Homo sapiens: one gene and its partners. The protein of the gene in region 3 purifies or fractionates together with the protein of the main gene of each other region. This does not show direct contact. Each region holds a gene or a part of one and is shown on either strand. Other genes may lie near its edges. The genes, in order: BTAF1, RAB3B, SLC15A1, MTX1, ABCD1, XPR1 and ACSL4.

Region 1 (3,500 bases), on a different chromosome or scaffold from region 3:
ATCATAAAATGCAAATCAGTTTGTAACACATTTGTAATAAAATACAAAAATATTTCAAAATAAGATGTAAAAAGAATAGGTATTTTTTGGAACAAGGCAGGTTATTTATGTGCATATTAGAACACATCAATTTCATTTTAATTATCCTTAAGTGAAATGAATATAATTCCTGAACAGTTTGTCAAATGAAAAAGGATACAGGCAAGTGCTTCAATTGCACCCTCTTGTTTGACACTGTCATCAATTGCTCCCAGCCACGGAAGAACCTTCTCCAAAAAAATATTCATTGTTTCCATGGTAGCTATTTTGCTCATGACACCTACACAACGAGCAGCCATGTGCCTCACTGCAGTACTGGGGTATTGAAGGCACATATAAAGATGTGGCAAATGCTGGACCAACTAAAAACAAAAAGTTAATGGCAATTAGAATTATTAGGAAATACTGTTTAATATGTAACTATAATAGCCCATACTCAGGAAAGTTTTCAATATTCTAAGTGACTCTAAAAATATCTCCAAATACTTCAAAACATTACTGCCAAAACATTCTCAATAGAAAACTAATCCAAATACAAATTAATGTATTACAACTCTTTCAAAAAGAAGGGAAAAAAAGGTATAGAACCTCTGCTCTGCTCATATCATCTCTTAGGCATATAGGAACACTCAATTCTTTCCAAAATTAACAGGAAACAAACCAAAAAGTACTTGGCAAGATTCTCCTACTGAAGCTGGAAAACAGCACCACACATCACCAGCTCCCTCCAAATTTGGTAGCACTAATTTAGATTTAGGTACATAATTTTTATTCAGTGGCTTGAGTGTTCCTGATTTTATTCTAGCACCATACTTTGGTAGGTATCGTCCACTGTAGCTTCCTGGCTTACCATAGGTGTTATAATCACAACAGCATCACAACAGCACCTTACTAAATGTCTGCTACAAGGAACACCAGAATTAATGCTGATGAGAGCCAGGTATCTGTTCAACAGTTTGATGTGCCTTACAGTTCAGCTGAATGCATGTTGCTAATTATGAAGATTAAGAGCGTACAGATGGACTCTACTTTTTTTTTTCCTTCTTTTTTTTTTTGAGACTGAGTCTCGCTCTGTCGCCTAGGCTAGAGTGCAGTGGCGCGATCTTGGCTCACTGCAACCTCTGCCTCCCGGGTTCCAGTGATTCTCCTGCCTCAGCCTCCCAAGTACCTGGGACTACAGGCATGTCCCATCACGCCCGGCTAATTTTTGTATTTTTAGTAGAGATGGGGGTTTCACCATATTGGCCAGGCTGGTCTTGAACTCCTGACCTCGTGATTCACCCACCTCGGCCTCCCAAAGTGCTGGGATTACAGGTGTAAGCCACCACGCCCGGCCTACTTTTCTTTACTAACAGTAAATCAGCAAAACTTTTAACAAGTAAAAGGACATACTTTATTACTATGTACAAAAAAAAAAATCCATTCTTCTCCACCCTCTCATAGATTCTCCCTTTTGTGTTAAATAACAATAGAGAACTGGGCTAATACCCTTCAAAATGGGGTAAATTGCAGACAGCTTCCTATTGCAGAGATATGAAAAGAATAATATTCTTCTATGAAAAAAACCAGATAATTCTCTATTTTCCTCCTCCCTCTGTCCTAATTCTTTTGTAAGAAACATTTTAATAGTTTTTTAAAAAAATCCCAAACCAGTGTTCTATCTTTGCCACTGACCAGCTTCACCTTAGGCAGGTGACTCCTTTCACCTTTGTACTTATCTAGGAAACAGATTTCATTATATATGCTTTTCCTTTCTTGGAGCTGTATTATTAGGATCATCTGGATGAACAGGGCTGCAGTTTTCTTTCCTATTTACATCTGGCTCCTGTGTCATCAGAGTCCTTTCCTCAATGCCCCCACATTCTAAGCTTCCAGGTTGGGTTTTCTATTAAATTCAAGCAGCCTGGTCTACATCAAAGCCCACAGGAGTTGCACTGTTAGTAAAGGAGGAATCTAGTTATACCACAGCAAAGAAAAATGCAATTAATAAGGATGACATCAAAGCTGTACCTTTCAAACCTTAAGACTTTTTAATAAGACCACTTGTTTTATTTGAAGAAATATTACACTTGCATTAGTTAGTTACCAAGGGATGAAGCTCAGAATCCATTGAAGCTGCTGCTGTTTCAAAAACCTGCAGAGAATTCACCAATTCTTGAGCAGGGCTATCTCCCTTATCCAGGAGGGATTTTCCATCTGTTAAAATATATTGTCTGTATTATCTGGCAAATAATTTTTCAAAATCTAGAGCACACAAAAACTTTTAGCACTTTTTCAGCTAGCATAGGAGAGTCAATTTTGCTTCTTAGTGTTAAAATTAAATGCCATGACCTTAATTTAAGTGCTGGGGTACTACATGTAGAGCAACCAAAGAACTTAAACATAGTGATCCATTTCAAGTATCTCTTTAAAAACAATTTTTTTTTTTTTTGAGACAGAGTCTCGCTCTGTCATCCAGGCTGCAGTGCAGTGGCATAATCTCGGCTCACTGCAACCTCCACCCCCAGGGTTCAAGCAATCCTCCTGCCTCAGCCTCCAGAGTAGCTGGGACTACACGCCCAGCTAATTTTTGTATTTTTGCTAGAGATGGGGTTTTGCCATGTTGGCCAGGTTGGTCTCAAACTCCTGACCTCAAGTGATCTGCCCACCTGGGCCTCCCAAAGTGCTGGGATTACAGGCATGAGCCACCATGCCCAACCCAAATATCTCTTTTATAAAATAAAGGTGTGTGTTTTTTTTAAACCAAGTTTCCATTTTAAAACTTACCAGCTGGTCTGGAATAAACAGGTAGAGGCATAGAGGCATTTTTATTTTATAAGGATATATTCAATTAATAGACATTAAAATTTGTTAAAAACTGGACTCATAAAAATATGTGTATACCAAAATTATTTATGTCGATTGTATTCCTCAATGGGCCAACCATAGCATCCCAGAGATGTGGCAACTTCACTGCCATTTCACCACCAAAATGCTTTACTATAGTTGTCAAAGCAAATTCAGCTCCTCTCCGTTGTACCAGGTAAGGCTTCTGGGCCTTAAAATTAAATGTTAGATAAAAACAGAATTTCAGAAAAAATCATAATACATTTAAAATTTTAACAAAAGAATTTAAAAGTCACCATCTAAGAATTCATAATGTTATCATTAACCAAGTAAGCAATTATTAGACATGTTTGTCTCAATTATAAACATTTCCCAATAATTAAATTTACAGGGGCCTACAACACCTAACTAGATTTTTGTGACCAAAGTAAAACACTTTTTTGGGGTTGAGGATAAGGAACAGACGGATATGTGCTGTTTCTAGAGATAGTCCTAAGTGACATTTTTTTTCCTCCTTCTCTCTACCTCAAAGAAACTTGTCAGCTAGAGAGAAGATAGATGAAGTGATGTGTCCTTATTTACATTCACTTAAGGGATAGTACAAGATCATCTGTTTAAGCTAACCCCAAGATTAA
Region 2 (3,500 bases), on a different chromosome or scaffold from region 3:
TGTGCAATTCACAGCAAAGTAGTCAGGAATCGATCTCATGAAGCCCGCAAGGACCAAACACCCCCACCCTGATTTAGACCTGTAGGTGCTGCCCCACGACCCCCACCAAAGCCCATGTAAGGAGCTGAGTCCTTAAAGACTGAAGATGGACTATTTCCTGGAGAAAAATAAAATGGAAATTGTACTTTAAAAAAAAGCCATCTATTTTAATACTATGTTTTATTTGTTAATTTAAAAGGTAATACATACTTACGGAAAATAATTCAAGCATATCCTATTTGCAAGTATTACCTTTTTTACCAGCTGTAGCTCAATTATTATTATTTTTATTTTATTTTATTTTATTTTGAGACAGGGTCTCTCTCTGTCGCCCAGGCTGGAGTGCAATGGCACTATCTTGGCTCACTACAGTCTTGATCTCCTGGGCTCAAGCAATCCTCTTACCTCAGCCTCCCGAGTAGCTGGGACTACAGGCATGTGCCACCATGCTCAGCTAATTTTTGTACTTTTTGTAGAGATGGGGTTTCACCATGCTGTCCAGGCTGGTCTTAAACCGGGATCAAGTGATCTGCCCTCCGTGGCCTCCCAAAGTGCTAGAATTACAGGCGAGAGCCACCACACCCAGCTGCATTATTTTCTTAATTCCTAGCATAAAATACAAGTAATATGAAACCTAAAGGTTTACACTGAAAAGTAAGTCTTGCTTCCATCTCTGATTCCTGATCCAGTTCCCCTCCCCAGAGGCATACATGTTATCAATTTATATATCCTTCAGAGATAGCCCTTGCATATATAAGCAAAGAGACCTATTTATACTTTTTATTTCTATATAAATAACATACCATGCATTCTAGTCTATACCTTCTATGCATATTGTAATAGCTGACATCATATGTACAAGGTATAGGCTAGAATATATGGTATGTTATCATTTAGCAAATCACTTAAATTTTAAAAGTACAATCATGAACTGCATAACAACATTTCAGTCAATGACAGACCACATGTACAATGGCGGTCCCATAAGATTATAATGGAGCTGAAAAATTCCTATTGCCTAGTGACATAGTAGCCATGGTAACATTGTAGCACAACACATTACTCACATATTTGTGTTGATGCTGGTGTAAACAAACCTACTGCATTGCCAGTTGTATAAAAGTATAGCACATATGATTATGTGCTATACATAATACTTGATATTGATAATAAATGACTATGTTACTGGCTTCTGTATTTACTTACTACACTTTTTATTGTTATTTTAGAGTGTACTTTTTCTATTTATATTTAATATTTTTTAAAAAGTTAACAGTAAAACAGCCTCAGGCAGGTCCTTCAGGAGGTATTCCAGAAGAAGATATTGCCATAAGAGATGACAGCTCCATGCCTATTATTGCCCCTGAAGACCTTCCAGTGGGACAAGACATGGAAATGGAAGGCAGTGATATTGATGCTCCTGGACCCTGTGTAGGCCTAAGCTCAGGTGTGTGTATTTGTGTCTTCCTTTTTAACAAAATAATTTTAAACATAAATTTAAAAACTAAGGAAGAAAAGAAAGAAAAGGCCAGGTTCAGTGGCTCATACCTATAATCCCAACACTTTGGGAGGCCAAGGTGGGAGGATCGCTCAAGCCAAGGAGTTTGAGGCTGCAGTGACCCATGATTGCACCACTGCATTCCAATCCAGGTGACACACTGAGCCTTCATCTCAAAAAAGGCCATACGGTGTATTTGTGCTTTAAGTTAAGTGTTGTTATAAAAGAGTCTATGGCTGGGCATGGTGGCTCAGACCTGTAACCCCAGACTTTGGGAGGCCGAGGCAGGCAGATCACTTAAGGTCAGGAGTTCAAGACCAGCCTAGCCAACATGGTGAAACCTCATCTCTACTAAAAATACAAAAATTAGCCAGGCGTGGTGGTGCGCACCTGTAATCCCAGCTACTCAGGAGGCTGAGGCACAAGAATTGCTTGAACTCGGGAGGTGGAGGTTGCAGTGAGCAGAGATCCACTGCACTCCAGCCTGGGTGACAGAGCAAGACTCAATCTCAAAAAAATAATAATAATAATAATAAATAAAAAATAAAAGAGTCTAAGAAGTTTTAAAAATTTTTTAAGTTTATAAGGTTTAAAAGTTATAGTAAGCCAAAGTTAATTTATTATTGGAGAAACATATTTTTAAATAAATTTAGTGTAGCCTAAGTGTAGAGTGTTTATAAAGTCTCCTATAGTGTATGGTAATGTCCTAGGCCTTCACATTCACTCACCACTCACTCACTGACTCCCCCAGAGCAACTGCCGGCCCTGCAAGCTCCATTCATGGTTAAGTGTCTTATATAGGTGTACCATTTTTTATCTCTTATACCATATTATGCCTGGGTGCAGTGGCTCACACCTGTAATCCCAGCACTTTGGGAGGCCAAGGTGGGTGGATCACTTGAGGTCAGGAGATAGAGACCAGCCTGGCCAACATGATGAAACTCCATCCCTATTAAAATACAAAAAATTAGCCAGGCATGGTGGCAGATACCTGTAATCCCAGCTACTCGGGAGGCTGAGGTTGCAGTGAGCTGAGATTGCACCACTGCATTCCAGCTTGGGTGATAGAGCCAGACTTGGTCTCAAAAAAAAAAACCATCATATTTTTACTGTACCTTTTCTATGTTTAGATGTGTTTAGCTACACAAATACTTACCACTGTGTTACAATTGCCTGCTACATTCAATACAGTAACATGCTGTACAGGTTTGCAGCCTAGGAGCAATAGGCTATCTATTCCATATAGACTATGTGTATAGTAAGCTATACCATATACCATATAGGTTTGTGTAAGTATACTCTATGATGTTCATACAACTATGAAATCGGCTAATGACACATCCCTCAGAACATATCCTTGTCATTAGCAATGCAAGACTGTACTTAAATACTACAAAAATTTAGTAGTACCAAAAGTACTACAAAAATATGAGATTTTGAGGCCAGGTGCCGTGGCTCAGGCCCATAATCCCAGGACTTTGTGAGGCCGAGGCAGGCGGATCATTTGAGCTCAGGAGTTTAAGATCAGCCTGGCCAACATGGTGAAATCCAGTCTCTACTAAAAATATAAAAATTAGCCAGGTGTGGTGGCGCACACCTGTAATTCCAGCTAGTCAGGAGGCTGAAGCACAAAAATTGCTTGAACCCAGGAGGCGGAGGCTGCAGTGAGTCAAGATTGCACAACTACACTCCAGTCTGGGTGACAGAGCAAGACACTGTCTCAAAAAAAAAGAAAAGAAAGTAAGGGCTGGGCGCGGTGGCTCATGCCTGTAATCCCAGCACTTTGGGAGGCTGAGGCGGGTGAATCACGAGGTCAGGAGTTCGAGACCAGTCTGGCCAACATGGTGAAACCCCATCTCTACTAAAAATACAAAAAATTCGCTGGGCGTGGTGGTGGCTGCCTGTAATCCCAGCTACTCTGGAGGCTGAGGCAGGAGAATCACTTGAACCTGGCAGGCGGAGG
Region 3 (3,500 bases):
GACTTTCATCAGATGCTTGGTCTTCCAGCCAGCAGAATCATCAACCAAATATACCTTTTTCCTTTATAAATTCCCCAGCCTCAGGTATTCCTTTATAGCAACACAAGTGGACTAAGACAGCCCACGTCATTCCTTTGGCCTGGAAGAGCCTCTACTTCCTTCTTCATTAAGTCCCAGGAAAACTTTCCTGACAACATCCCACTGGGTGTGCTCGTGGAGCCCTTCCTGGAGGGCTGGGTGACTTCTCTCTTTAGTGACCTCACACCATGTGACCTCAAGCAGCGTGAGCCCCTCAGCAGCCAAGGGGGTATTTTAGAGAGTTTCTTCATATCCCCAGACCTTAACTCCATGCCTCACACATCACTAATAATAGACAGTATCCCTGCTACTGTGTCAAGATGTGACAAAGATGCTACATTTGTTTGCATTAGGGAAAAACAAAAACCTATAGATGCTGCTTGCAGTCACTAAATGTCAGGCACTGTTTCAGGCTCTAGGGACAGGATACTGAGCAGAAACAGCGCTGTAAATGCTCTCCTAAGGGTTTGTTTCTGTTTTTAATTTGTTTTTGAGACAGGGTCTTGTTCTGTCATCCAGGCTGGGGTGCAGTGATGTGATCACAGCTCACTGCAGCCTTGACCTCTGGGGCTCAAGCGGATCCTCCCACCTCAGCCTCCCAGCTAGCTGGGGCCACAGGTGTATGCCACTATGCCTTGCTAATTTCTTTATTTTTGGTAGAGATGGGTCTCACTATGTTGCCCAGGCTGGTTTCAAACTCCTGCCTCAGCCTCTCAAAGTGCTGGGATTACAGGTATGAACCATACCACACCTGGCCTCTCCTAAGAGTTTCTGTTCTTTGATTCATCATTCCCAGATTCCACCATTCCCAACTACAAAACCTACATTTACTTTTTCGCTTGTTTGTGAACAAGAAATTTCCAGCCACTCACTTGAACTTTCCCAGCCACGAGTCGGCGATAAGAGCTCCGAGAATTGGCGTCAGGTAGCACAGAGCCACAAACGTATGGTAGATGGCGGTGGACAGGTTATCATCCCAGCTGATGAAATTTGTGAAGTACAGAATCAGGATTGCTTTTGCAGAGGGCAGGTGGAAGAGGAGGGGGAAACAAAGTTAGGACTGGTTATGGCCACTCCCGCTCTTCCCTGAAGGGTGAGAAACGGCCAATACAGTTACCTCGCATTCCATAGTAGGAAAATCTTTCGCAAAACTCATTGACCACGATGAAGAAGATGCTCAGGGGATAACCAAAGAAACTCTGACAAAAAAGAAACAAGCACAGGATTGAAATACACCCCCCACTGGTCCATAGCCACAAAGGAGCACCAGTGGCATGAAAGGCAGCCAACGCAGATTCAGTAACTTACCGGTGACTGTCTAGAGCAGGAAACTAGCATTTAATCATTTTATTCCCTACACTAATCCTTCCACATAGAGACAGCAATGAAATAAAGCATCCAGTGGTATTGTTAGTCTGAGGAGGATTATCCACAGCATTTCCTCAGGAGAGGACATCTCACATGGAAATCCGGGATCATACCCTCACTGGTTCCAGATGTACAGATCTGTTAGGTGAATGAACCCTTAGGGGTAAAACAGATGATAAAATTTACAAGATGAAGATATGTAGAGAAGGAAAAAGGGTACTCACGTGTGATTTGGACATTCCTAAAAGAAAAACAGAATCCCAATATTAAAGTCAAGCCATTACAATAGTTTTTGCTGTGTCTAAACTCAGAGCCTCTGACTTTTTAGGGTGGTCAGAGGGGCCATTCACCAAACAGCTCCAGCCCTCCCTGGGATCCCGGCCCCAGACTCATGCTTCTTATCTGAGGTGGGGCCTGGCATCTGTATTTTCTTTTAAGAAGCTCCTCAGGCAATTCTCGTATGCAGTCAAAATTGAGAAGCAGCAGCTCAGAGAATCAGGCCTAAACCATTTCCTCCTGAAACACTTCAAAGGCCGCCCATCGGGATAAAATCCACACATTCTAGCATGTTCTTCAATATCTGACAAGTGTTTTGGTGGGGATGAAATTTCTGTAATATAAAATGCTTCTGAGTGCCTGACACACTGTGCACACTCAACCGCCACCTCCTATGGCTTGGGCCCTGCCTGCCAGGCTCACCCCATGATTTAAGTCTTGCCACCGATATTCCCTTCCCAAATCATCTCTGATGTGCCTACATCACCATACTGTAATGATGGGCAGTTTATATTTTTGCTTCCCTTCTGGACCAGGTTCTGAAAGCAGAAGAATCATGTGCCATCCATCACACCAACATCCCCACTTTCAACGTCCTGTACAATACCTACCACTGGTAGGGGGTTATGTCACAAGAATGAATGAGAAGAGCAGGAAGAAACAGCCTGAGAATACAAGGGAGCTGGTGCACGTCAAGTCCAGTGGACTCTCCCATGTGCATCCTAGGAGCGCCTCATCCCCATCCCGTCAGCACCTGCTCTTCTGTCTCCCCGGAATTTTGGCAAGAGCTGAGCTGTGCCCTTGTCTCTAGTCTTTACACCTCCTCACTCTGCTCCTACACAAACACATTGCCCTGTGTTCATCCGTGTCTATCACATACTACCCTGTTTCCCACAGGACATCCATCCCCTTCCCCCTCACTCACCCCGATTTCCTTATATTAGAGTTCTTTGTTGCCAGGGCTCCCTGAACATGCTCCACCTCCATTAGGAATCTAGGAATCGGTGACCCCATAGCAGTGGGTCTCACACTGGAGTGTGCCTCAGAATCACCAGAGGGCTTGCAAGAACAGATGGCTGGGCCCCATTCCTGGAGTTGTTGATTCTGTAGGCCTGAGATGGACACTTGAGCTTGCATTTCTAACAAGCTCCCAGGTGTGGGTGCTGCCACTGGTCCAGGCAGTGTGCTTTGGGAATCACTACACTGGAAAATTATTCTTTAGACTGTTCTTTTCCCAGTGTTTGTTCTTGGCAGCTTTGTCAAAAATGAGTTGGCTATAAATGGATGCATTTATTCCTGGGTTCTCTTTTCTGTTCCATTGGTCTATGTGTCTGTTTCCATGCTGATTTGGTTACTACAGCTTTGTAGTATATTTTGACATCAGGTGGTACCTCTGGCCCTATTCTTTTTGCTCAGGATGACTTTGGCTTTTCGAGGCCTTTTGTTGTTGTATATGAATTTTAGGATTTTTTTCTATTTCTATGAAAGTTGTCGTTGGATCTTGTCATTTGCAGCAATACAGATGAAACTGGAGGACATCAGGTTAAGTGAAATAAGCCAGGCACAGAAAGATAGATATCACATATTCTCACTCATATGTAGGAGCTAAAAAATTGATCTCATGGAGGTAGTAGTGGGTAGAATGGTGGTTACCAGAGGATGGGAAGGGTAGGTGAAGGTGGGAGGATGAAGCAAGGTTAGTGGATACAAAAACACAGTTCTGTAGAAGGAATAAGAGCTGGTGTTTGGTAGCACAACACGGTGACTACAGTTAACAA
Region 4 (2,629 bases), on a different chromosome or scaffold from region 3:
AAGGGACAGAGTCAGCTCACACGCTGTCTGTGACTAAAGAGGGCACAGCAGGGCCAGTGTGAGCTTACAGCGACGTAAGCCCAGGGGCAATGGTTTGGGTGACTCACTTTCCCCTCTAGGTGGTGCCAGGGGCTGGAGGCCCCTAGAAAAAGATCAGTAAGCCCCAGTGTCCCCCCAGCCCCCATGCTTATGTGAACATGCGCTGTGTGCTGCTTGCTTTGGAAACTGGGCCTGGGTCCAGGCCTAGGGTGAGCTCACTGTCCGTACAAACACAAGATCAGGGCTGAGGGTAAGGAAAAGAAGAGACTAGGAAAGCTGGGCCCAAAACTGGAGACTGTTTGTCTTTCCTGGAGATGCAGAACTGGGCCCGTGGAGCAGCAGTGTCAGCATCAGGGCGGAAGCCTTAAAGCAGCAGCGGGTGTGCCCAGGCACCCAGATGATTCCTATGGCACCAGCCAGGAAAAATGGCAGCTCTTAAAGGAGAAAATGTTTGAGCCCAGTCAGTGTGAGTGGCTTTATTCTGGGTGGCAGCACCCCGTGTCCGGCTGTACCAACAACGAGGAGGCACGGGGGCCTCTGGAATGCATGAGAGTAGAAAAACCAGTCTTGGGAGCGTGAGGACAAATCATTCCTCTTCATCCTCCTCAGCCATGCCCAGGGTCCGGGTGCCTGGGGCCCGAGCAGGCGTTGCCCGCTGGATGGAGACAATGCCGCTGAGCAAGGCGTAGCCCACCATGGCTGCCAGTCCTGCCAGCACAGATAGGATCTGGTTCCGGCGCCGGTATGGCTCCTCCTCAGTCTCTGGGCCTGCTGGTGTCTGGCGTTGCGGTGGTACCTCAGCTGAGGGTCAAGGAAGGAAGGTGTGTTAGGAGAACTAGTTCTTGGATCCCTGCCCACTCTCCCCAGGGCTGCCCCTCCCATCTGCCCCTTACCTCCATCCCAGGGGAAGTAGAGACTGAGAATGTGGGTACAATAGGCACAGAGGTTGTGCAGCCCACGCAGGTGGACCTGCAGCTTCCCACTGGGCAGCTTTGCCTGCAGCAGCAGGGCCAAGTAGCTGAAGACGAAGGCGTCCAAGGAGGCAGGGCTGGAGCAGAGAGAGAAGGGTGGGATGGAGGAGAACCACTGGGGTAGAAGGGGTAAAGATGGAGCTGGAGGAAGAGTCAGCCTTGGGAGGTGGGCTCTGGGCAGCAGGCGGCCACCAGGGAAGGACAGGACACACAGTTCTAGACCTGGTATGGGGAGAGATCCCCAGGTGGCGCCAGCCTGGCCCTGAATAGGGCTCTATCCCAGGGCTGCATAAAGGGCACATTCAGTGCCCCACAGCTCTTCAGGCCCCTCCTGTGCCTGGCTGCCCTCCCACCCTACCCTTTTGTACCTCTGAGAAGGCTCTGGCCCCCACACAGTCACACTGTCACTAGGGCCAGTTTCTATCCCAGGGACCTCCTATCCAGAGCCTGAGCCAGCCCCAGCCCCAGCCCCAGCTCCAGCTGCTCCATCTGAACCTGTATCTTCTTCCAAGCCACCCATTACCCTCTTGGAGTCAGACTCACGCATCTCCAAAGAAGAACTTTTGAGAGCCCAGGCGCTGAGAGAGCAGGGTCAGACACTCCCGAGCCTCTCGGTACAGCTGTAGGGGCGACACAGGTAGGCTTGCAGCTGTGGGAACAGTGCCACCTCCCCACCTAAGCACTCCCATTCCTGGCCAGCATCCTTGGGGCTCATCTCATACAATAGCCCCCGGTCTCAGAGCTACCTCCTTCTCCAGCTCTTCCTCGTCCTCAGGCCTGTGCTCCCCAGTCAGCAGCTGTAGCCGTTCCATGTACTGCCGCTGCATGCGGCCAGGCAGGAAGAAGTTGAGGGGAAAGGGCATAGCCTCTGCATACCACTTCCGGGTCACTTCCACGTAGTTCTTGGTGTCTATCCAAAAAGTATGTACCTGGATTGGGTGGGCAGGAAGAAACAGGTAGGTCTGAGCCAGTGCACCTGTCTGATTCAAGGTGGGCTTCTGACCCCCATGCTTTCCTGAGCCTGTGTGTGGGTCTGTGTGTTCCCGAACCCTCCCCGGCTGGCCATGGATGCTGGGAGGTCTGGGCACACTCACCAGCACCGGGAGCAACTTCTCCTCCAGGAGAGACATGAAGGCCAGGGTGTCTGCCCCTTGCCGAGCTGACAGATCATAATCAGCATTGTACTTCTGTGGAGGAAATATCCATGGCGTGGACACTAGGGAGCTGCAAGGGCACTTCACCAGGGAGGAAGGAGTCCTGTCTGGTACCCCCCTCACTGGCCTCTGAGTGCAGTGGAGGTACAGCAAGGAACTTTTCCTGCCAAGGCCCCCTTGCCTGGGCCCAGCCAGTAGCCTGTTGCTGTTGGCGAAAAGCCTGGGCCTTGGAGCCTCCTGGCCGTGAAGGTCCAGCGCCCAATGCAGGGAAGGAAGGAAGGCTCCGCCGCAAACTAGGAGCAGCTCCCAGAATTTCCATGGAAAGCTGGAACAACGCCCGCTGACGGCAACTTTCTAACAGTAACTTCCCCGACCCAGACACCACAAAGCTAGCACAACGGAGCTCAGATGCAGGCTAGGACTCGGTCCATGCCTCAGGAACCAGAGAAAGCCATCCTCACACTC
Region 5 (3,500 bases), on a different chromosome or scaffold from region 3:
TAACTCCAGAATGTTTTATTTTTATTTTATCCCCCAAAGAAACCCCAGACCCATGAACAGTCACTCCTCATTCCCTCTCTCCAGCCCCTGGCACCCACTCATCTGCTTCCTGTCTCTGTGGATTTGCCTATCTGGACATGTCCTAGAAATGGAATCATGTGCTCTGTGGCATTTTGTGACTAGCTTCCTTCACTGAGCATCATGGTTTCAAGATTCGTCCATGTCATAAGATGAATCAGTCCTTCATTCCTTTTCATGGCTGAATAATATTCCATTGTGTGCATAGACCACAATTTCTTTATCCATTCATCCCTTGATGGACATTTTGGGTTTCTTCATGTTTTGGCTATTGTGAATAACACTGCTGTGAACATCCATGGACAAGTCTCTATGTGTGCAGATATTTTCGTTTCTCCTGGGTGTGTAGCTAGGAGTAGAATTGCCAGGTCACATGGTAACTGGACGTTTCACTTTTTGAGGAGCTGCGAGACTGTTCTCCACAGTGGCTGCCCCATTTTACCTTCCCGCCAGCAGTGTTGGAGGGTTCCACCTTTTCATCGTGGCTAGCACTGGTTATCATCTCCTTTGTATTCTAGCCACCTAGTGGGTGTGAGGCAGTATCTCTTGGTGGTTTTGATTTGCATTTCCCTGATGACTAATGACGCTGAGCCTCTTTTGATGTGTTGAGTGGCCATTTGTATGTCTTCTTTGGAGAAATGTCTGTTCACGTCCTTCGCCCATGTGTGATCGGGTTATCTCTGTCGCTGAGTTGTAAAAGCTCTTTGTATATTCTGGATACTGCACCCTCATCAGATGTGTGGTTCACCAGTCCAGAGTTTTCTCCCAGTCTGTAGGTTGTCTTTTTCACTGTCTCGATATTGTCCTTTGGTGCACAAAAGTGTTGAGTTGAATGAGGTTCAGTTGATCTGTTTTTCTCTTGTTGCTCATGCTTTTGGTGTCCTAGTGAAGGAACTATTGCCATATCCAAGGTCGTGAAGTTTTATCCCATTTTCTTCTGAGAGTTTCATACTTTGGGCCACACTACACATCAGCCTGTGATGTGCTCTGGGTTGGTTTGTCTGTATGGTGTGAGGGGTCCCTCTCCTGCACATAGAGAGAAAGAGAGAGAGAGCTGGTTGCCCCGGCACCATTTGCAGAAGAGCCTCGCCTTTCTCTCCAGCGGCTCATTTTTGACTTTCCGCTGTCTCTGCCCTGCCCCTCCCCGCCCCGCCACCCACCCCTCTGGGGCTTTGCAGATGCAGAGGCCGTGAAGAAGGCAGCCTTGGAAAAGAAGGAGGAGGAGCTGGTGAGCGAGCGCACAGAAGCCTTCACTATTGCCCGCAACCTCCTGACAGCGGCTGCAGATGCCATTGAGCGGATCATGTCGTCGTACAAGGAGGTACCCCTGGCCCAGCCCCACCCTTGCCATCCTTGCCATGCTTCTCTCCCTGCAACTGGCAGGGGCTGAGCCAGGGTCACCCTCCCTCAGGTGACGGAGCTGGCTGGCTACACAGCCCGGGTGCACGAGATGTTCCAGGTATTTGAAGATGTTCAGCGCTGTCACTTCAAGAGGCCCAGGGAGCTAGAGGACGCTCAGGCGGGGTCTGGGACCATAGGCCGGTCTGGTGTCCGTGTGGAGGGCCCCCTGAAGATCCGAGGTAAGGCTGTCCCCTCCCTATGAGTGACCCCGCCCCTGCTGCTGCTGCAGGTGCTGACCTGCTGCCCCAGCTCCTCCTATTCCCGCTCCCTCACTCAGGGACCTCCATGTGCTTCTGGCCCATCCCAGTCCACCCAGGACGGGAGGGCTGCCGGGCAGGGTCTTTGAGGACTTCGGCCTGGTCGAGCTGGGCCCCTGGAGGGTTTCCTGCAGAGAGGTGCTGGTCCGCCCGCCTTCCTTCCCAGACAGTAGCTGCCGGCCACCGTACTGACTCGCCCTTTGAGGGCCTCAGCCTGGATTATTCATTCAAAACAAGGGGGATGTGGTCCCCTCACCCATGCAGGACAGCAAGAGAAAGTTCCAGTCAGTGTGCCAGCTGCTGGCTGCCACGGGAGGCAGGTGCTGCAGAAGGGAGTGGCGGCCCAGGGCACTGTATTAGACACTGGGGGAAGAGTTCAGCTTGTTGGAAGACCTGGCTGTGTTCCCTAGGGACCCTGGACCACAGGCTGCTGGTCAGGAACCAGCTGGCATGCTGCCAGGGATGGGAATGAGGGCGTGCAGCCAGGGGCACGCAGACTCCCCAGAATGCAGAGGGGTCGCCACCACTCCCTCTCCACCCCAGCCCCGCTGTGCTGTCTCTGCAGGCCAGGTGGTGGATGTGGAACAGGGGATCATCTGCGAGAACATCCCCATCGTCACGCCCTCAGGAGAGGTGGTGGTGGCCAGCCTCAACATCAGGGTAGGTCCAGCGGGGAGGGCGCCAGCCACGCACATATGCAAGCCTCAGCCCTTGGCTTCCCGCCTGTCTGTGCTGGCAACAGCCATTGTCCCTAGATGTACGTGGCAGGTGGGCCAAGGTCAAGGTGAGAGACCAACGTGTCTCTGACTGTTCATCCTGGGGCAACAGAGGCAGGGCTCATAAAAGAGACTAGTGATACCAGGATTGACCAAGGTTCACCCCGGCGTTCCTGGCCCTATCATCTGATGCCAACTCCCCACACTCCTAAGAAAGCCAAGACCCGGGTGGGGGGGCTCTGGTTCAAACCTTGCCGCTCGACCTCCCTCGGAAGGCCACAGCAAGGAATCCACAGATCACCTGTGTCCCCAGCCAGGGGTTTGGACAGGGCTGGGGAGTAATGGAGTGAGGGGGAGACTGGGGTGGAGGGACAGGTAGAGAAGTGACAAGGAATCACTCATTCATTCACTCATTTAACCAATGTGCCCTGAACTCTGAGCCGGGCACCAGAAACCCGAGGTAAATCAGGAGACCTGCACTCAGGGAGTCTTCACTGTGGAGGGGCACTAAAGTGTTACAAAGGGTCTCCAGGTAGACAGCTGTTCAAGGGACAGTGGGGGTCACAAGAAGAGTGGTCAGAGTCCCTGGGGGTGGTGGGGGTGGGATGAAGCCTTGCCCAGGAGTTGCTGTGAGCGAGTGGGCAGGCAGCTGAGGGTAGAGGAGTGAGGGGCCGTGGGCCTGAGGGGCAGGTCACGCAGGAGGAAGCAGAGAGGAGGGGCATGCCAGGGAGGAGGGGGCCGGCACAGGTGGTTACCCCTCACCGCTCGCAGCGGCCCCTCCTAGGATGTCGGGGGAGCTGATCACCAGTGAGTCCAAGGAAGGTGGTTTCCAGGCTGGCCCCGGGCAGCACAAGCAGGCAGGGGCAGCGGGCAAGCTCATGGGGCCCCTGCGCGCAGGGCCACATATGCTCAGGGAGCCGGGTATGCGAGATGGGGCAAGGCCCAGGCCCCACCCTTCAGGAGGGGACAGTCAGGTGGCTTCATTAGCATCCTGTGGCTGCGGTCACAAAGCGTTACAAACTTTGAGTGGCTTTCCCAGCAGAGATGG
Region 6 (3,500 bases), on a different chromosome or scaffold from region 3:
GTTAATGGAATCTAATGGATTAGATACAGATAAATGTATTAATGCAGAGTATCTGAGTAATCATTAACAAGAACATTTAAATCCCTACTGACTCTTACAAAGAAACTTCATTCTTAAAATTTCAAAGCAATGTTTATACAGCAATGATAAGCCTTAACAAGATACAGCAGTAAGCAGAAGGCCAATATTCTTATATCAGGCTCTGCTATTAGCTAGTCATGAGACTCTGACCAGGTATCTTGGCATCTCTGCTCTCAATTTATTCATTTGTAAAACAGAGGGGTTGAGAAGGTCTCTTTCAACTCTAAAAAAGATTAAAAATTAAATTTTCACTAGAAAATTGAAAAGAACTAAAATCAGATACCCACTAAAAACTCAAGCAACTCACTTAAGCCATTCAGACATACTTAATAACACATGCAAATTTCACCTCAATTCTAAAAACAAATATACAGACACAGTCTATAACTGAGATGAACACAAGTTACAAGAGAACTAACTTACCTCACAGCCACATAATTGTTCTCACCTGGTTTTCTTACTCTGTACAAAAAGGTTAAGAGTGATTTATTAAGAAAAATATTAGCAAAAAATCAACAAAGCCATTTTCCATGAAAACCTAAACTGGACAAACCTGGAGGAACAAGCTTTGAGTCTCACTTTCCCAGTCAAAAATAATATTAGCCAAACATTATTTAGTATTGTTGAGCTCTGCAGAAGAAATAATTTTAATAGGAAATTTATTGCTGTTACTATGTGCCAGGTATTGTTCTAAACACTTTTCATATTTTTAACTCATTTAATCCTCACAACAATCCTGTAAGTACTATTATTATCCCTGTTTTACAGATGAGGAAACTGAAGCACAAAAAGGTTAACTGACTTGCCTGAAGTCACTCAACTAGTATGTTGGTGGAGCTGGAATATAAACTTAGGTAGACTGGCTTCAGAGTTTTTTTCTATGTGTTATTAATATACTAGCATATTATATAAACTAATGAGCAATAAAATGAATCAGGGTGATTGTGTTAACTCAGCTACAAACAAAACCATATAACCTGAATCACTTAACCTCTTTTCCCATTTGGGTAAAAAAGGAAGTTGAGCTAAATAAGCTTAAAAGTTCCTTACAAGTCTAACATTCCATGATTTATGATCCAGAAGCCAAACACCAAAACTGTAGCACAGCAAACAGCTGTCCACTTTTGTCCTCCTCTTTTTACCCTTATCACCTTATCTCCTTACCTTTTTCTTCTGATTTATCTTCGTAAGTTCCTTTATTTACCAGCTGGCTGTCCAGTAATAGTTACACTGATAACCTTGAGGGAAATATAATTTAACAGAGGTGAACACTATCCTACAGACCACACTCTACTATCTCCAAACTATGCAGACTAAGACCTGGGACTAAAAATAGACCCGCCATTACTTCACTGGGCTGTAGAAAGGTCAGCGGTGCCTAAGAACAGGTCAGACCAGGCCTAAATGTATGCATGTTTAAGTGGATGGATTTATTCATTTTTCATAAAACAGTACGCCATAGAAATTAAGAGCATGGGCTCTTACAATCTCCACAATTAGCTATCCACAATTACTATCAACATAATCAGTTACCTAATGGCTCCGAGATTCAGTCTCCACCATCTAGAAACGGAGCTAACAACCTACGCTATAAGAGGTGTTTTTAAAGAACTTACCACAGTGCCTGATACAGTAAGCGCTCAAAAAATAACAGCTGCTGTTATTGCCACTACTACCACCACTGCTGTTATTTACAATTTCCATATAAAAGCAACAGCTCCACAGTCTGATTTGATTTAATTTCAAATTCTGGTTCCATTTACTTACTAAGTATAGAGCCTTAAGCAAATTACTGATCTCTCTAAGCCTGGGTTTCCTCATCAGTAAAATGGAGATAATAAATCATCTATCTTACAAAACTACTGTGAACATTGAGATAACATATGTAAAACAGCTGACACCTGGTTCCTAACTGCTCAATAAATGTTAATTCCTTTCTCCTTAATGACAAGCTTACCACACTTCTGCTAATTCAATTTAAAGAAAGGAGAGTAGAATTAGGGATCACATGAGATCCAGGGAAGCCAACTTTCTTTTCTCTATTGTCCTTGCTGTAGGGCAGATACCAGACACTCCTCACCCAGGGAACTCCTTTATCCTCTTCCATGTTTGATAAGACTAGAGAACCTTTTTTCAGGCTATCTTCAAACTTCTAATACAGTATATGTATCGATGTACACTGGAATCCTCAATAACTGTTAAGAGTTTCAAGTGGTCCTGAAACCAAAAAGTTTGAGAGCCACTACTCTAAGGTATAAAAAAAGCCCACAAAGCACATGGATTACCCTATGAATTACGACTTTAACAAATTTAGCCTAGATAAGTAACTCACATAAAAATAACCTAAAAACTTCTCACTTTTCTCTATGATTAAATTTCAGTCCTTGAAAAAAATCACTTGTTCACTAGTTATTTACGAATAGTCAATGATAGAACTGGATTTTAGGATTTATATCTGGTTTCTGGTCCAAGGTCTTTCTAATACAGCAGGTCATCCTCAATTAATAAAAGATGACTATGTTTTCTTAATCAATATATTAAGCCTCTTGTTATAGAGATTATGAAAATTTTAAGTTATGTTTACAGTAGATTAATTATATTTTCCTTTGACTCCCTAGCAAATAAACAATTTTTAAAGGGTGTTTTTTTTTTTCAGACAGTGTCTCACTCTGTCACCCAGGCTGGAGTGCAGTGGTGCTATCTCAGCTCACTGCAACCTCCGCCTCCTGGGTTCAAGCAAGTCTTGTGCCTCAGCCTCCCAAGTAGCAGGCACACGCCACCACACCCAGCTAATTTTTGTATTTTTAGTAGAAATGGGGTTTCACCATGTTGGCCAGGCTGGTCTCGAACTCCTGATCTCAGGCGATCTGCCTGCCTTGGCCTCCCAAAGTACTGGGATTACAGGTGTGAGCCACCATGCCCAGCCTAATTTTTAAAACATTTTCTGATCAGTCCCTATACATACCACACTTGCTTGGTGATGGGAAGAAATAGGTGACTAAATATCAGTCTGAGTAAACAACTAAGACTTTAAAGGAATATAACTTAAGTTACAAAAGTAATCCAAATTTATACAGAAGTATAAAGTAGTACAAGATTTATTTGTATTACAAAAGTAATACAAATTTATACAAAAGTAATACAAATTTATATCCATGTTCCAAGTCCTCAATCTTCAGTCTTCCCTTTCTACACCACTTTTTAATTTTAAAAATACTATGTTGACTGAAATACAAAACCAAATACACACATACACACAAATTTGGGGTGTGTGTGTTTTGGTTTTTTTCTGTTATTTTTAAGGTACTGAAAGCTAGCATTTAATGACAAATCAGCCTATAGCAAAGGAAGACTTCTATAAATTTGTGGAATGAACGAATGATTTGTAAGGTATTTGTTCATGAGCTTTCTCTGCTGGC
Region 7 (3,500 bases), on a different chromosome or scaffold from region 3:
ATATTTACCTTAAGTTTACTTTCCAGAAGTTCAACACTGGTAATCAGATAGGAAGCCTCAGATTCATTTAGCCCATGAACTACTGCTTCTTTGCCAAGTGTGGCATATAAAGTCACAACTACATAATAAAAATAAACACAAATATTAAGTAATAAACATCTATTAGAAATGGATATTATTGAAGTCAGTCTTTAATAATAGTTACACTTAGAGACACAAAGACATTGTATATTTTAATTTGATTTCATAGTCTCTGTTACCATCCTTCAACCTTGCTTCAAACTCCCTGGGAGCCCAAAGTTTTCCTTACAAATTCCCAGAACTCTCACTTCCTAAACCTGAAGAAACCCAGAAACACTCGCACTGCCACAGCTGATCAAAAATCTGTCAATTTAGATGCTCAAGGCCAATAGGTACTGGCTGAACTCTTAATTCAGGTCAGACTGGCCCAGCTAGGGCTTCTTCTTGATACACACTTTCATTGGCCATAGCCTCCAAAGAATGGATAAGTCCTTGAAAATCTTGAGGATCTTAAGTCATAAGATCAGCCACAGATAATGTTCTTACTCCTTCTAAGAAGCTGTTTTAGTGAGTCCAATGTCCAATGTGATTGGTGACCTCCACACCTTAATTAGAGAGATCAAGGAGATCTACTCCTTAGGAGCCACCAGAGATAACATAAACCAAGATCAGTTAGAATCAAAGGACATCTGCTAAACTTAGAAAGAACTGAAAATTCAGCTCTAGATTGGTAACCAGAAACAATGTGGTTAAAAATAGCCACTTTCACAAGCTGTTCATCGTTGAAAGTGGGTAATGGGTACATAGGGGATCATTTTCATATTATCTATTTTTTGTTTGAAATTTAAGCTCTATAATCCTAACTTACAGTGTTATATTTCATTCAACAAACAACAGAGTACTTAGTATGTGACAATACATTGTTTATTTCTTAAACAATGGCAACAACAAATGCTTGAGTATTAGAAATATACTCAATTTTACTTTCTAACATATCTAATGCCAATTCCAGCTGTCACATGCATATTTCACACGTAAAATAGAATAAGTCAAATAAGAGGTCTCAAAGTGAAGCAATGAATTTGAATTATCCTGAGAAATGGTTTTTTGTTCTTTTAATCATTACTCTTTGTATATCACCCCCCCAAAATACCCCCAAACTCCAACTCTTTCAGTTACAATTCATTTCCAATTGGAAAATAAAAGTGTAAATCACATCCCTTAAAGCTGCCAATTCCCATATTAGTTCTTACAAGTTACCATACTTAACAGGAGTCATCGGATATCTTTTAGCCACAATATTACATGCCGTATTATGGACATAATTAATGTGTAAAATGGCTAAACAACACCTACTGTGAAAACAAGAGCATCTCAAAACAATTCTCACATGCAAGCAAAGACCCTCCTCTCCCCCCTCCAAAAACACAAGGCACTTACGAGGAAAGTTGTACTTAAAGCAGGTCTGTGCTGCAATCATCCATTCGGCCCTGGTCTCACAGAAGATGGCAATGGTGTTCTTTGGTTTTAGTCCCAGTGCAGTGAGTCCACTACCAAAGTTATTCACTCTGCGATTCACTTCAAGATAGTTCATCCATTTATAATTCCCAAGAATTAACTGTTAAAGTGATACATTCTCTAATATTAGTATATTCAAACAAGCAATTAAAATACTATCCAAAGCATAAAACTCTAAAAATGCTCTTAAATGAACATACAGAAGCTATGAGCGGCTTCTGAGTAGTTTTACACAGCACTATAATAGAATGCCAGCATACTTAAAACGCACTCGATTTATGATAAAACAAATGTGTCTTCCTCTTTAAAACATAAATGAAAAGCACCAAAATACTTTACCTTCTTAAAAACTTTTCCATTTGGCTGCATTTCATTTTCTTCACTTAGGATTTCCCTGGTCCCAAGGCTGTCCTTCTTCCCAAACTTGGATACAGCATGGTCAAATAATTTATCCAGAGTATCTGCTCCAGGGATGTCTATTACAGCTAGTGAGTCGAAGTGTGTGACAGAGCGATATGGACTTCCAGGTTTGTCTGAAGTGGGCTTAGCTTTTATTCTCTTTGCCATAGCGTTTTTCTTCTTGGCATTGGTAAGAAAATACCATGGAATAAATATAAGGGCACTGTATATTGTTATTAACAAGTGGACAGGCAGCAAAATAATGGTGAGCACATTTAGCTTAAGTTTCATAGTGGAAAGGCTTCTAAAATGGTGCTTATTTCTTGTTATTCTTTGGCTTTTGAAAGCCTTATTGTGCTGAAGAAGGCAATAATAGAAGCAGCAGTAAGAATAGCAGTACAGCCAAGGCAGTTCAATCTTAGTGATACAGATAAAAGTTAGTAATCTTTGGAAGCCGACAATAAAGTACGCCTGTAGGTGATGACAATGAACCAAGCAGAGAGCAGGAAAAATAAAAACAAAAAACAAAAAACAAAAACAAAAGAATATTAACAAGTTGATAGCACAATTGATTTAAATACTCAGGTCTTTATTAGTTTACACAATTAATTACAGAAAGCTGAAATAACTGGTCTGAAAGGCTGGCATTTTCCATTTGTAATCATTATTGACGTAAATGTCTTTGAGCACATCAACTTCTGAATTTATTTTTTTCTAGGTTTCTAGGTGTACTGGTACTCTGCATATCATTCTGTGAGTTGAATAACAACCTTAATGCTTACACAAATGCATGAATATGATATTTAAGTTTGTCAAAACTTTGGTAGAATAGGGTATGCCAATAATAAGATTTCTCTTAAACATGTGCATGTAAACTAGACATCTTTAAATAGTGTTAGGTTTATATCCAAAGGGGGGGGTGGGGCAGAAACTATCAACTTAGATTTATTTCTCAAAGGTCAACCCAGAAACCTTATTCTGAGTTCTTCATTAAGGTAAATTTCTCAGGTAATGCTATTTACTATCTACTATTTCCCACATGGGAGCAATACAATTGTAAAATCATTTCCTACATGTCCACTTTGTGCTCAAAACTGCACCAGTTGCCTAGGAGTGGTAATACAAGTCTGAAGTAGTATTAATTCCTGGCCCTTGGCCATTATAAGTTAACACTTATGAGTCAACTATCACACAAGATAGATCCAGTATTTTTGCAACTGTTTGGGGGAACGGGGACAGGGGGTGCAATTAAACCATCTCTTCTAATAAACACTACTGGAAACTGCCCATATATAACACTAAAGTGGAGTTGCTCTGGCCAAAACAGGGTTTGGGGATGTCCAGAGTCCTGCCCCAGAATTCCCGGAATCCCAACTCCCAAGGTGACCACTAAAGCATTTCCACTGAAAAGCCTTGTGGTAATACATAACTAATACATAACTACCATGTGCAGTGTAGGCAGTAGTATAAGCAATAAATGCAAAAGGAGTTCAGAGGAAGTGCAAAATGGCCAAGAGTAACTAGGAGAGGCTTTGTGGAGATTAGATTTAAGCTGGACCTTA

What was found.
Region 1: the proteins of SLC15A1 (region 3) and BTAF1 purify together in Homo sapiens (affinity purification with mass spectrometry; 2 studies listed by BioGRID and IntAct, with this or other methods). This does not show direct contact.
Region 2: the proteins of SLC15A1 (region 3) and RAB3B purify together in Homo sapiens (affinity purification with mass spectrometry; 2 studies listed by BioGRID and IntAct, with this or other methods). This does not show direct contact.
Region 4: the proteins of SLC15A1 (region 3) and MTX1 purify together in Homo sapiens (affinity purification with mass spectrometry; 2 studies listed by BioGRID and IntAct, with this or other methods). This does not show direct contact.
Region 5: the proteins of SLC15A1 (region 3) and ABCD1 purify together in Homo sapiens (affinity purification with mass spectrometry; 2 studies listed by BioGRID and IntAct, with this or other methods). This does not show direct contact.
Region 6: the proteins of SLC15A1 (region 3) and XPR1 purify together in Homo sapiens (affinity purification with mass spectrometry; 2 studies listed by BioGRID and IntAct, with this or other methods). This does not show direct contact.
Region 7: the proteins of SLC15A1 (region 3) and ACSL4 purify together in Homo sapiens (affinity purification with mass spectrometry; 2 studies listed by BioGRID and IntAct, with this or other methods). This does not show direct contact.

Annotation. Positions count from the first base shown.
Region 1 is NC_000010.11:91,993,270-91,996,769, reverse strand, and holds part of BTAF1 (TATA-binding protein-associated factor 172), read right to left. Parts: intron 3,077-3,500; coding exon 2,923-3,076; intron 2,236-2,922; coding exon 2,126-2,235; exon of another isoform or gene 2,113-2,125; intron 402-2,112; coding exon 200-401; intron 1-199. UniProt on the Homo sapiens protein: Regulates transcription in association with TATA binding protein (TBP). Removes TBP from the TATA box in an ATP-dependent manner.
Region 2 is NC_000001.11:51,980,701-51,984,200, forward strand, and holds part of RAB3B (ras-related protein Rab-3B), read right to left. Parts: intron 188-3,500; exon of another isoform or gene 1-187. UniProt on the Homo sapiens protein: The small GTPases Rab are key regulators of intracellular membrane trafficking, from the formation of transport vesicles to their fusion with membranes.
Region 3 is NC_000013.11:98,725,173-98,728,672, forward strand, and holds part of SLC15A1 (solute carrier family 15 member 1), read right to left. Parts: intron 1,688-3,500; coding exon 1,671-1,687; intron 1,278-1,670; coding exon 1,196-1,277; intron 1,093-1,195; coding exon 951-1,092; intron 1-950. UniProt on the Homo sapiens protein: Electrogenic proton-coupled amino-acid transporter that transports oligopeptides of 2 to 4 amino acids with a preference for dipeptides. Transports neutral and monovalently charged peptides with a proton to peptide stoichiometry of 1:1 or 2:1.
Region 4 is NC_000001.11:155,211,695-155,214,323, reverse strand, and holds the end of MTX1 (metaxin-1), read right to left. Parts: intron 2,198-2,629; coding exon 2,105-2,197; intron 1,940-2,104; coding exon 1,757-1,939; intron 1,631-1,756; coding exon 1,554-1,630; intron 1,088-1,553; coding exon 933-1,087; intron 841-932; coding exon 626-840; 3' UTR 501-625; downstream 1-500. UniProt on the Homo sapiens protein: Involved in transport of proteins into the mitochondrion. Essential for embryonic development.
Region 5 is NC_000023.11:153,734,856-153,738,355, forward strand, and holds part of ABCD1 (ATP-binding cassette sub-family D member 1), read left to right. Parts: exon of another isoform or gene 1-1,256; coding exon 1,257-1,399; exon of another isoform or gene 1,400-1,489; coding exon 1,490-1,658; exon of another isoform or gene 1,659-1,756; coding exon of another isoform or gene 1,757-2,056; exon of another isoform or gene 2,057-2,301; coding exon 2,302-2,396; exon of another isoform or gene 2,397-3,500. UniProt on the Homo sapiens protein: ATP-dependent transporter of the ATP-binding cassette (ABC) family involved in the transport of very long chain fatty acid (VLCFA)-CoA from the cytosol to the peroxisome lumen.
Region 6 is NC_000001.11:180,638,522-180,642,021, reverse strand, and holds part of XPR1 (solute carrier family 53 member 1), read right to left. Parts: intron 1-3,500. UniProt on the Homo sapiens protein: Inorganic ion transporter that mediates phosphate ion export across plasma membrane.
Region 7 is NC_000023.11:109,681,258-109,684,757, forward strand, and holds part of ACSL4 (long-chain-fatty-acid--CoA ligase 4), read right to left. Parts: intron 2,410-3,500; exon of another isoform or gene 2,230-2,409; coding exon of another isoform or gene 2,107-2,229; coding exon 1,879-2,106; intron 1,640-1,878; coding exon 1,462-1,639; intron 119-1,461; coding exon 9-118; intron 1-8. UniProt on the Homo sapiens protein: Catalyzes the conversion of long-chain fatty acids to their active form acyl-CoA for both synthesis of cellular lipids, and degradation via beta-oxidation. Preferentially activates arachidonate and eicosapentaenoate as substrates.